Homo sapiens: one gene and its partners. The protein of the gene in region 2 purifies or fractionates together with the protein of the main gene of each other region. This does not show direct contact. Each region holds a gene or a part of one and is shown on either strand. Other genes may lie near its edges.

What was found.
Region 1: the proteins of SCAF8 (region 2) and DHX8 purify together in Homo sapiens (co-immunoprecipitation; one large-scale study listed by IntAct). This does not show direct contact.
Region 3: the proteins of SCAF8 (region 2) and FOSL2 purify together in Homo sapiens (co-immunoprecipitation; one large-scale study listed by IntAct). This does not show direct contact.

The regions. Positions count from the first base shown.
Region 1 is NC_000017.11:43,514,835-43,518,484, reverse strand, and holds part of DHX8 (ATP-dependent RNA helicase DHX8), read right to left. Parts: intron 1,319-3,650; coding exon 1,163-1,318; intron 654-1,162; exon of another isoform or gene 423-653; intron 1-422.
Region 2 is NC_000006.12:154,731,789-154,735,538, forward strand, and holds the start of SCAF8 (SR-related and CTD-associated factor 8), read left to right. Parts: upstream 1-1,627; 5' UTR 1,628-1,634; coding exon of another isoform or gene 1,635-1,762; 5' UTR 1,763-2,006; coding exon of another isoform or gene 2,007-2,112; coding exon 2,113-2,142; intron 2,143-3,750. UniProt on the Homo sapiens protein: Anti-terminator protein required to prevent early mRNA termination during transcription. Together with SCAF4, acts by suppressing the use of early, alternative poly(A) sites, thereby preventing the accumulation of non-functional truncated proteins.
Region 3 is NC_000002.12:28,399,321-28,402,970, reverse strand, and holds part of FOSL2 (fos-related antigen 2), read right to left. Parts: intron 1-3,650.

The DNA of each region.
Region 1 (3,650 bases), on a different chromosome or scaffold from region 2:
AAAGATGGCCAGGATATGGCCCCTGCTTTCAGAGAGTTCACACTGGGTAAAAACTATGTTCACAAAACCACCACAGTGCAATCTACATGCCTGGCATGTAGCATGTGTTCAATACATTAGCTAATTCGATGAATAAAAGAAACGACTGAATGATGCACGATTCAAGTGTATATAAAGTGTGATGTGGTAGGACCTAAGCTTTCTATTTCTTTCTCATAAAGTGATTGTGACCATAAACACAGCAGGTGTTCAATAAATGTTTATTGTGTGAATAATAACTATGATGAATTATGTTAGCAATCATCAAGCACTGTGCCAAGTGCCTTTACCTACATTATCTCACTTATCTTTCCAACAAATACTATTAACAGCCCCTTTTTCAGAGCAGAACACAGAGCAGAGGGCAAAGTAAATAAACTTGCCCAAAGTCGCAGTTTGGAGCTGAAGTCCAAGCCACAGATGCCTCTCTGTTGGCACTTCAGAGACTGGAGTAGGTTTCTTTTTTCTTTCCAAAGCTCTGTTTTAGCCTCTTTGACAGGGAATAAATAATAAATGACAACAGAGCACTCTGCACCAGAAAGTACCAGGGCTCCAGGGTAGCATCAGTGTCGGGGGAAACGCCATCAGCTGGGAAATTACTCATACAGCTCCTCCTGCCAAAAGAGAATGAAGTCCTCACTGGGGACTGAGAGAGGAAGAACAATGATTCAGAATGAAAACCAAGCCCCTGAGAGCCAGTCTGAAATCTGTACTGACAGTTCCCTTGCAAAGTTTTTGAACAGGGGGTTTTCTCTCGTTCTAAAAGAACAGAATTGGATCTGAGCGCTAAAGTGGTTGAGGTTAGGTGTGTGTGTCCACAGTTTGGCATTGATTATATTTTTCTAATTTCCTTTTAGAAAATGCTCCTAACTAGAACCTTTTACAACCTAATATCCTGCTGGTTGTTATGGTAAGAAAAAATGTGTGTTCACAGCAGACATGCCAACTTAGCCCCAGACCTGCCGTGAGAGGCTGTTATCACAGCCATTTGCATTTCACTCAAAGGGACTGCTTTCATGAGGTTACTAAAGTATTTAACAAGGTTCATAAAACTGAAATTCATTTATGAAGGCCAGGATTGGACTGTTCCACCAACCCATTTTAACAAGACAGTGATTTCTACCTTGAGTGACAGCACTGTGCTTGCTAAGTTGGTTCTCTGGATTTCCGGCACGTTGGTGGTCAGCATTTCATCTCGGTAGGCACGTTCTGTGTACAACCTGTAACACTTCCCTGGGCCTGTTCTCCCAGCTCTGCCAGCTCGTTGCTTTGCCTGAGCCTAGAGGGGTGGGCATATAAAAGCAACATATCTGTTAAACACTGCTTAACAGCTTTACCCAGGATATCTGTTAAAAGGGGGACAATTAACAACTGGCAAAATCAGAAATGGGGTTGATTTCACTTCCTTTGGGACCATTTCCAAGACTACCAATGCTCTTATCTTCCCCTCTCCATACTCAGCACTTCGGGGAAGTTTGTTCGAGGGAGGCAATACAAGCAGGGTTAATGGAAGAAATATTATACAGATCTGAGACATATATCTTCAAAATAGTGTGGCGCAATATAAAAGAGAAAGCATAAAACAAGATGACAGAACACCATCCCCACAGTTATGACCAAAAATGTAAGTGAAATAAACATATTACGTCAATCATCCCAATGATGACTCTGCAGTCATTTTAAAAATTATGTTTGCAGGCCAAGCGTCGTGGCTTATGCCTATAATCCCAGCACTTTGGGAGGCCAAGGTGGGCAGATTGCATGAGCCCAGGAGTTCGAGATCAGCCAGGGCAATATGTTGAAACTTCATCTCTACAAAAAATACAAAAATTAGCTTGGTGTGGTGGCTCACGCCTGTAGTCCCAGTATTCAGGAGGCTCAGATGGGACGATCACCTGAGCCTGGGGAGGTCGAGGCTGGCTGCAGTAAGCCGTAATCACACCACTGCACTACAGCCTGGGCAACAACAAAGACTGATCCTGACTCAAAATAAAATAAAAAATAAAAATAAAAATCATGTTTGCAATGTTAAATGACAGAAGAAAATGTTCATTCGCATTAAATGCAAAATGCAAGTTACGAAACAATGTAAAATAATTTTAGTAAAAGTCTTTATATATCAACTACTAGAAGGAAATGACTAGGCGAAAAAAACCCTAAAATGTTAACAGTGGCTAACTCTGATAGTAGGCTTGCAGATGAGGTCTATTTTCTTTAGATTTTACCAAATATTGAACATGTATTATTCTAATAGGAAAATTAAATACTCAAAAAAATATACAAAACTGCATACTTACTTGACTACTAAAATTGCAACCATGAAAGAAATAAACATGAAAAAAGACTGGAATGAAAAACAGCAAAATAATAACAGTGGAGGTAGTAGGATGGTGGGTAAATTTTTTTCTTCTGTTTTTCAAAAATAATAAAACACTACTTCAAAAACACTGATTTTTTTTTAATTAAAAAAAATGTAGTTTAGCCATAGGTTGCTAGGAAACAATGAATAGCAATCTGAAGAGGGCCATTTTCTGACAAAACCATCTGTTGTTACAAACAGTACCAGGATTTACAAATTACTATGCCAGCTCCAAACCAAAGGATAGGTTATGAAAGGACAACTAACCACACAAATCCAGGCAGCAATCACACACAGTGGCTGGACTCTACAGCATTCTACACATGTCTCTCTCCAAATCAGGACAGGCATGTGTAACTAATTTTTTGATCACCGCCACCCTGACAAGTAGTATAGAGCATACAAGCTGGAGCCAGGCTACCCAGGTTCAAATCTTGGCTCCACTAGCTCTGTGATGTTAGGCAAATCACCTAACCCCTCTGTGCCTCAGGTTCCTCATCTGTGAAAATAATATCTACCACATAGGATCAATGCGAGAATGCACCAAGTCAATGCATGTATCTAGGACGTTAAGTACACTGTAAGTGTTAGCTATTATTGGGCCAGGCGCGGTGGCTTATGCCTGTAATCCCAGCACTTTGGAAGGCTGAGGCGGGTGGATCATGTGGTCAGGAGATGGAGACCATCCTGGCTAAGACAGTGAAACCCCATCTCTACCAAAAATACAAAAATTAGGTGGTCATGGCGGCATGCGCCTGTAGTCCCAGCTACTTGGGAGGCTGAGGCAGAGGAATCACTTGAACCCAGGAGGCCGAGGTTGCAGTGAGCTGAGATTGCACCACTGCACTCCAAACTGGGCGACAGAGCAAGGCCCCATCTCAAAAAACAAAACAAAACAAAAAGTGTTAGCTATTATTATTACTTAAGTTTCAAAATAAAAATAGCCTTAAGGCTTTCACAAATTATGAAAGTAATACATACCCACTGTAAAAGATTAAGACAACATATAAAAGTATAAAAGAAAATGCACATCATCTAGTAGCACCACCCATAAATAATCTTGGCTAACATTTAGACTACATGCTTTCAATCTTGGGCACAGCTCACTCACACATACTCTGAAGAAATGCTCACCATCTATTTTTAAACAAAAATTGGATTATACCATTCATGCTGTTTTGTAGGCTCACTTTTTCAAAGAAAATATTATAGTTACATGTTTATGTCATTAAATATAGATACACACCACCAT
Region 2 (3,750 bases):
AGGGGACCTCTTTCAGGAAGATTGAAGGAGGAGGAGTCAGCTATGGAAAGGACAAGAGCAACAGCACCCTGTGTGAAGAGACACAATTGTCCTACCTATGAAAACACTGCTTCTTGTCAAGTAACAGAAAGGCCAGTGTGGCAGGAGGAGAGTCAGGGAGCAAGGGAAGGTGGTGTGAGCTGCGGCAGGCTGGGCTGGGCCTTCAGGCCATGGTGAGAAGTTATGATGGTATCAAATGGGCAATGAGAAAGTATTTAAGGGATTTAAGTAAGGGAGTGACCTGATCTGATTTATCTAAGAAAAACATCCCTCGGCTACTGTCTGGAAATGAACTGTAGGAAGACAAGCAAGGGACCAGTTAGGAGGCTACTGCAAGTGTCAGTAAAAGATCATGGCTAGGCCTGAAGATGGGAGACGGTGGAGAAATCTGTGACAGAATTTGAGATTTTGAAAGTAAATATAAAAGCACTTGGTGAGTTATCCCTGTTACCTTCTCAGTAGCCAGGCCCTATACTAAAGCTGCCAATGAAGTAGAATGAAGGCTCTGAAACCTCAAGAAGGGCCTTACTTTCCCAGTTTCACGGGGCTCTGCGCACAGCTCTTAGGAACTACCTTGATTCCAAAACTCTCCAAAAGTACGATCCTGCCCTTATGTTCCTCTCTCCCTTTGAGTGAATTTGGGAATGATTGTTGAAAAATGACTTTCAACAAGAGGACAGCAGTGTTCGGGGTTCCACGATACATCCCTATCTTTTAACATCGATAAGTATTTTTAAATTGGTACCTTATTTTGCGCTGCACGAGAGAGAAGGCTTTTTACTAGCAGCATCTCCTAATCCATCTAAGAAATACTGTATTTACCTTTACTCCAAGTATCCTAGGGCAAAATTCCTTTAGAACAATTCATCTTCCGAAACAGACGGGTTCCCTTTTCACCTATTCAAGTGTTGTGCATTCTAGGGTCCCCTTCCCGCCTTGCAGACAAATGCGCTCATTGTGCCACTCCAGTCCCTGGATCCTATGCAGCGGGCATTTCCTGCAAGGAGCTGCTGCATGCCTGTTTCCCTCGCCGCCTGCCCCAACCCGAATCCAAGGCTTTGGTTTCTAATGTTCCCTCCCTGTGCAGTTAAAACAATTGAGTTCAGTTACTAAATAGATGACCAGGAACTTTTTCTTGGCGAAGGCTGCGGATGTTTAGGGCACTGTCCAGTAAAGTTGTGAAAAGCAACTAAACCCTGCCGCTTGTGCAAAAGGACCAATCCACCGGGAAACAAGGGAAACGCGCACATTTCCTCAACTTGCCGCTTCTTGGGCACGTTTAGGCTCTTATTAGAGCCGCGCTTTGGAGTTGCCTCCTCCTGCTGTACAAACCCGCCGCGGCGTTCCCCCGGATGCCGCAGCGCTCACTCCCGCGTCCGCGGGGCGCGGGGAGGGGGCGAGGCGCGGGCGGCCCCGGAGCCAAGGCGAGGGCAGCGGAGCCCAGCCGGGCCTACGGGCGGCGACGCTCTGGCCCCAGCGCGCTCGATGGTTTCCGCGCGGCCGCCGGGGCTCGCACGGTCCAGTCGCCAGGGGGCGCGCTAGCCGGCGCCGCGGATCCCCGAACTGCGCGGCCCGACTCGAGTCCGCCATATTGGATGCCGCAGCCGCTGCTGCCAGCGCTTCCTCCTCTGTCTTCGCCGAGCGGGGCTGGTTCCTGCGGCCCGAGCGGCGGGGAGGTGAAACAGGAGCCCGTCGGAGGAAGGGGCAGAAGGGAGTGGAGAGTGTAGGGGAAGGGGCTAGAGGGAGGGGGACCGAAACGGAGCGGGGCAGAGAAGAGAAGGCGCCGCGGCCCAGCCCCTCCCCCGCCCGCCGCCGACCCGCCCCGGCAGCGCCTCTGTTCCCTAGAACGGCGCTCCCCCCGCCCTAGCGGCCATGCCGGTGCCGCTCTGCCGCTGAGGGAGCCCTTCCCCGCCAGCGCGTGCCCTTCCACTCCGCCCCGAGGTCGCAGCGGCCCGCTCTCCCGCCAGCGCCCCCTCCTCGCGGCCACGCAGCAGCCCGCGTCTCGCTCTCCCCACCCAGTGCAGTGGCCGCCGCCTCTTCCGCCGCCGGGCTCGGGGCCTCCGCAGCGACAACATGGAGGCCGTGAAGACCTTCAATAGCGAGGTTGGTATGGCAGCCGGGTTCCCCTGCTCCTGCCCGCACCGCCCCCACCCCTGGTCGAGGCCGGGGCCCGGAGGGTGGGCGCGGGCCTGCGGGTTTTTTAAGGGTGGGGTGAGCGGTGGCCTAGCAGTGCCCGTGGGGGAGGGGTGTTTCTCCTCTGGGTGCCCCTCCCCCGGGTCCGGGAGGAGGGTTGGGGGAGGGCCGCCCTGGGGCGGAGGGAGGTTCTGGCGTCTCCGGCGTCCTATGGAATGGCTGCGAGCTCGGAGGGAAAGACCCGGTTGGGCCCTCACCCGGAGACTCCCGACAGGTCCCTCGAGGTCAGTTCCGCCGAGGCCTGGCCCGCCCACCTCCTTCCTGGGCCTTTGAGGATTTAAGTGGACGCTGGACATGACTCTCCAGACCTTCCCGGGTCCTCACTGAGGCTAACACCGATTGGGGGCGGTGGGGGAAATGAACCTACGGGGTGTTGATCTGTGGTCACGTTACACGTAGTGTTTATAATTGAGGCATTGTTGACTAGGTAATTTGCCAGCTAGGGACTTGAGCTAATTGGATGGTTGGTAGGCAGGCAAAGGTTATTCTGCAATATCTTTTATTTTTACTCGCTCCTCTTCTAATCCATCACGACATAAAGACAAATGGTAGGGAGAGATCTGTGCATCGAGAGATGGAAGATTATGGGGGAAACATTTCTCGCTGGTTCATTCACGTGTCAAACAAGATTTTAAAAAGCAGATTCCATTTTCACTGTGTAGTTGAATTTACTAGTCTGGAAGAAGACAGGTTTTGATGTATTCAATTTCTTTTTAAACTCCGACTTCAATAGGCCTTAATGTAAACATCAAACATAGCAAGTACACATCTGCACAGTCAGCATTAGTATCCCTACCCGTACGCCTTGGAAAGTGTAATTATGGCCGGGAACAGTGGCTCAGGCCTGTAATCCCAGCACTTTGGGAGGCCGAGGCGGGCCAATCACGAGGTCAGGAGTTCAAGACCAGCCTGGCCAACGTGGTGAAACCCTGTCTCTACTAAAAATACAAAAAATTAGCTGGGCGTAGTGGCAGGCACCTGTAATCCCAGCTACTTAGGAGGCTGAGGCAGGAGAATCGCTTGAACCTGGGAAGCGGAGGTTGCAGTGAGCCGAGATCTGCGCCACTGCAATCCAGCCCAGTGACAGAGTGAGACTCTGTCTACAAAAAAAAAAAAAAGAAAAAGAAAAAGTGTAATTATGCTGGTAACTAAATTAGCATAAATTTTATGAACTCTTAAAGTGCCAATACTTTATTCGATACTATGATTGTTAAAGAGTATCTTTAATATTTACCTCTTAAAATACGAGGCTTTTTGCTGTGACGGCCCAAATAGGACAGTACTTTTAAATGCCGTTGCATAGTTTTATCTTGTTTTAATTTCTTTAAAAAGAAAAACAGTATTTGGGAATCTTAGCTAAGAGGCTAAACGGTAGATAATATTTGGGCTATTTTCAATAGCAGTGATACATAACTTTTTTTGGAAAGCATTTTCTTTTTTAATACTACATTTTTTATTTTTAACATTGATAAATTAGAGCAATAGACTTGGGAATCTTCTTTTTTTTTTTTTTTTGAG
Region 3 (3,650 bases), on a different chromosome or scaffold from region 2:
AAATGTCAGACACCATGGCTTACCTAGATTATCTCACTAATTCTCTCTCTGAGTGAAGAACGACCATTAGCTCCATTTTAGGGACAGAAATTTAGGCTTAGTGAGATTAAGTAACTTATTCAAGGCCACATTGCTAATAAGCAGCGGGGTCAGGATTCAAACCCAGTCCAGCCTGACAAAGAGGCCAGAGCCCCTGAACACAGTGGTATACAAGCTCCTTTTCCATTGCTTTCTTCCTCAAAATCCAGCCCTAAGTGCTGGTTATCCACCCCCACTGCCCTCAGACAGAGTGTCAGGTCATCCCCTATAGACCTCCCCTCTCACAAAGAAGGTACCACAGGTCTGTCTGGCCCCGAATGGAACCCCACTATCATTAGCATGGATGCTGTAGAACCCTCCCTATGCTGGTCCAATCAGACCAACTAGGATAGAAGCATTCGCAGCAATGGAAGCTGGCACCACCATTGTCTTTGCCTTGTCACAACATCAGGGTTCCTGCTGTGTAAATAACACATAGAGTACCTCACTACAGCTGACAGAGCTGGGGACCCCTTCTTGCTCAATTCCCTGCTATCTGCCTGACCCTAGTCTGCATGTTGGAACGGCTGCCTCATCAACCAGACCACCTCGGGGGCCCAGGCCAAGGGCTTCAGTGAAGAGAGCTGCCCAGCACAATGGATTCTGGGATTCTGGAGGAAAGTTACCCAGTGCAATGGATTCTGGGGTTTGGGAGGAGAGCTGCCTAAAGCAATTGGTTCTAGGATTCTGGAGGAAAGTTACCCATTGCAATGCATTCTGGGATTCGGGAGGAGAGCCACCTAGAGCAATGGGTTCTGGGATTCTGGAGGAAAGTTACCCAGCACAATGCATTCTGGGATTCGGGAGGAGAGCTGCACAGAGCAATGGGTTCTGGGATTCTGGAGGAAAGTTACCCAGTACAATGCATTCTGAGATTCAAGAGGAGAGTTGCACAGAACAATGGTTTCTGGCATTCTGGAGAAAAGTTATCCGGTGCAATGCATCATTCTGAGATTCAGGAGGAGAGCTGCCTAGAGCAATGGGTTCTGGGATACTGGAGGAAAGTTACCCAGTACAATGGATTCTGGGATCCCGTGAAGAGAGCTGCCCAGGGTGATAGATTCTGAGTTGCATTTCTGAAGGCAAAGAAAAGTGGGCTTTTTATCAGGCGCTGACTGAAAAGCAGCAGGTGTGTGCATATGAAGGAGGGAAGAGTGCAGTGAACAGGAAAGCATCCAAGTGGGAAATGATCTTCAAGGAGGAAAAATGGCCAATTGGGGCTGGGCTGTGAGTAGGCAGAGTCGTGAGAACAGCAGGCATGGCTGAGTGTGTGTAGAAGCACCAAGTCCCAGACAGCTATTTTTTTCCTGAGCTGCTGGATGGGAGGGGCGGGGAGTCAACACTGCACTCGGGGTCAGGAGGCATGGGGTTGAGGCCTGGCTTAGCCACTGAGTGCCTTGCCCTGGGCTCAAGGACTCAATTCCATGGATGTAAAGGGGAATACTCATCAAACTCACTGCACTGCCATGAGGATTAAATGAGTAGCTACTTGTAATCACAGGCTATAAAAGCACGCCAGTGGTTCTCAACCCTGGCTACACATTAGAATATTCCAAGGAGCTTGTAAAAAACACACTAATGTCAGAGCCTCGCCATTAGACCTCTAAAATAATTGGTTTGGGGCAGGGCTCTGATAAGCTTTTTTTTTTTTTTTAAACCCCCAAGGAGAGTCTGTTGTGCAGCCAGGGTTGAGAAACATTGCTCCAAACCAATGGAAGGTCACCATCACCACCACCATCATCATTAGATGTGCCTGTGTACTCTGCCCAGGAGGCTCTGGGGAGAAGTGCCAGCTACCCACTCCTGGGAAGCACCCAACTTTTAAATTCCATTTCTCTCCCCAAGCCAGGTTCTGGGTTTGAAATGCACCTGAGGCATTCAGCACAATGGTTTGATATGACTCCCTCCTCCATGGGGAAGCTGTCAGCTTTCCTTTTAGGAAAGCACCTAAGAAAGTCACTCCTCATTCCAACAAATAAAAGTGCTCCCGTTTTAGGCTTGGGGAACCCAGCAGAAAATCTGAAGCAAAGCTGAGGGACAAAGACCCCTTCAGAATAAGTGGATGCCTATTAGCCCCTCTGAGGCCCTCTAGTCCACCCGCTCTGGAGGGCAGGTCCGTGGTGTGTGCTCCCCGGTATACATCAGCCAGATTCCTCGCAGCAATGGCTTGGTCTAGACAAAACAAGACAGCAATAAAAACCAGCCAGGAGGTAATGACTGCCTCTGAAACGCATGTACACCTTGTTTCAGACAGGAGGCAAAGCCATCTGGATAATACACTGGCTCTAAACTGCAAGGAAAACAATGTCCCATCCCCAGAGGGGCCCGGGGCTCTGATAAAGAAGGCTTTTGTCTCCAAGAGGAGCTTCTCTTGGAGACACACAAAAGTTTCAATTAGATCTGGCAGATGGGTCTTGTCTCAACTCCCAGCATGTTATTCAGAAACGTGTTATTCAGAAACGTGTTATTCAGACACTGGGGTAGGAGAGAAGAGGTGAAGTTAGGAGTTTGTGGTCCCAGAAGTTAGCCTAGCATTCTTCTATGCCAATAGACCCGAGAATCAGCCACATGTCACACTGGAGATAAATCGTGGTTCTCTACGGACGAGTTAACACTAAACACAAACCAAGATAGAGCTGCTCAGCTGGGGGCTACAGGGCAGTTTCAAACCTGCTGCATGCATGCCAGGAGTGTGCTGGGAGTGATGGGATCAGGAGAGGTAACCCAAAACCTCACTCGGCTGCCTGGGGCTCTGTAGCCAACATGTCCTCCTCAAGGACACTTTGAAGATGCTGGATGCCTATGTAGCATTCCAGCCTGGCAAAGCCTCCAAATATTTCACTGTGTCACCCTGTCAACTGCGGGGTGGGCAAGAATGCCTATAAAAGGATATAGTGGTCCCCATCCACCTCCTAGAGCAGAGTTTAGCAAACTTTTGCTGTGAAGGGTCAGACAGCAAATATTTTAGGCTTGGTGGGCTATACGGTCTTGGCTGCACCTCAATTCTGCCACTGCAGTGCGAAAGCAGCCCTAGATAACATGTAAACAAATAGGCAGGACTGTGCCACTGTATTTTATTTAGAAAAATACTCAGGACATAGTTTGCCAACCCCTGTCCCAGAGGTTCATTCTCATCTCCCATGCTCAGGTTGGAGGGAAACGAATACAGAGGAAATAAGAAAGCAAAAAGTCAGAACTGAGATGTTCCTCCAACCCAGGTAGCCGAGGAGACGGGCTCTCACTTATCAGCTTGAACCTCCAGACCCTGAGCCGACGTTCAAACCCTTACAAGCCTTGTGGTCTTTGGGCATGGAAACTCCCATCACCCTGCTGTACCCTGTTGCTAGGGTGCCACCGGGCTGCTTGGGAAGGATGCGTGTGCTCCTTCCACTGCCAATGAGAAAGACGGCCGAAAACACGGACCCTCTAGGGCCACCAAACCTCAGCAGGTCAGAGAAGTTCCCCCCACAACAGTTGCTGATTTGGGAAAACTGCCTCCTGAGACTCTATACTGGAGCCTTGGCTTCAGCTATGAACCCATGGCTTTTTGCTGACAGGTATTGGAACTAGGG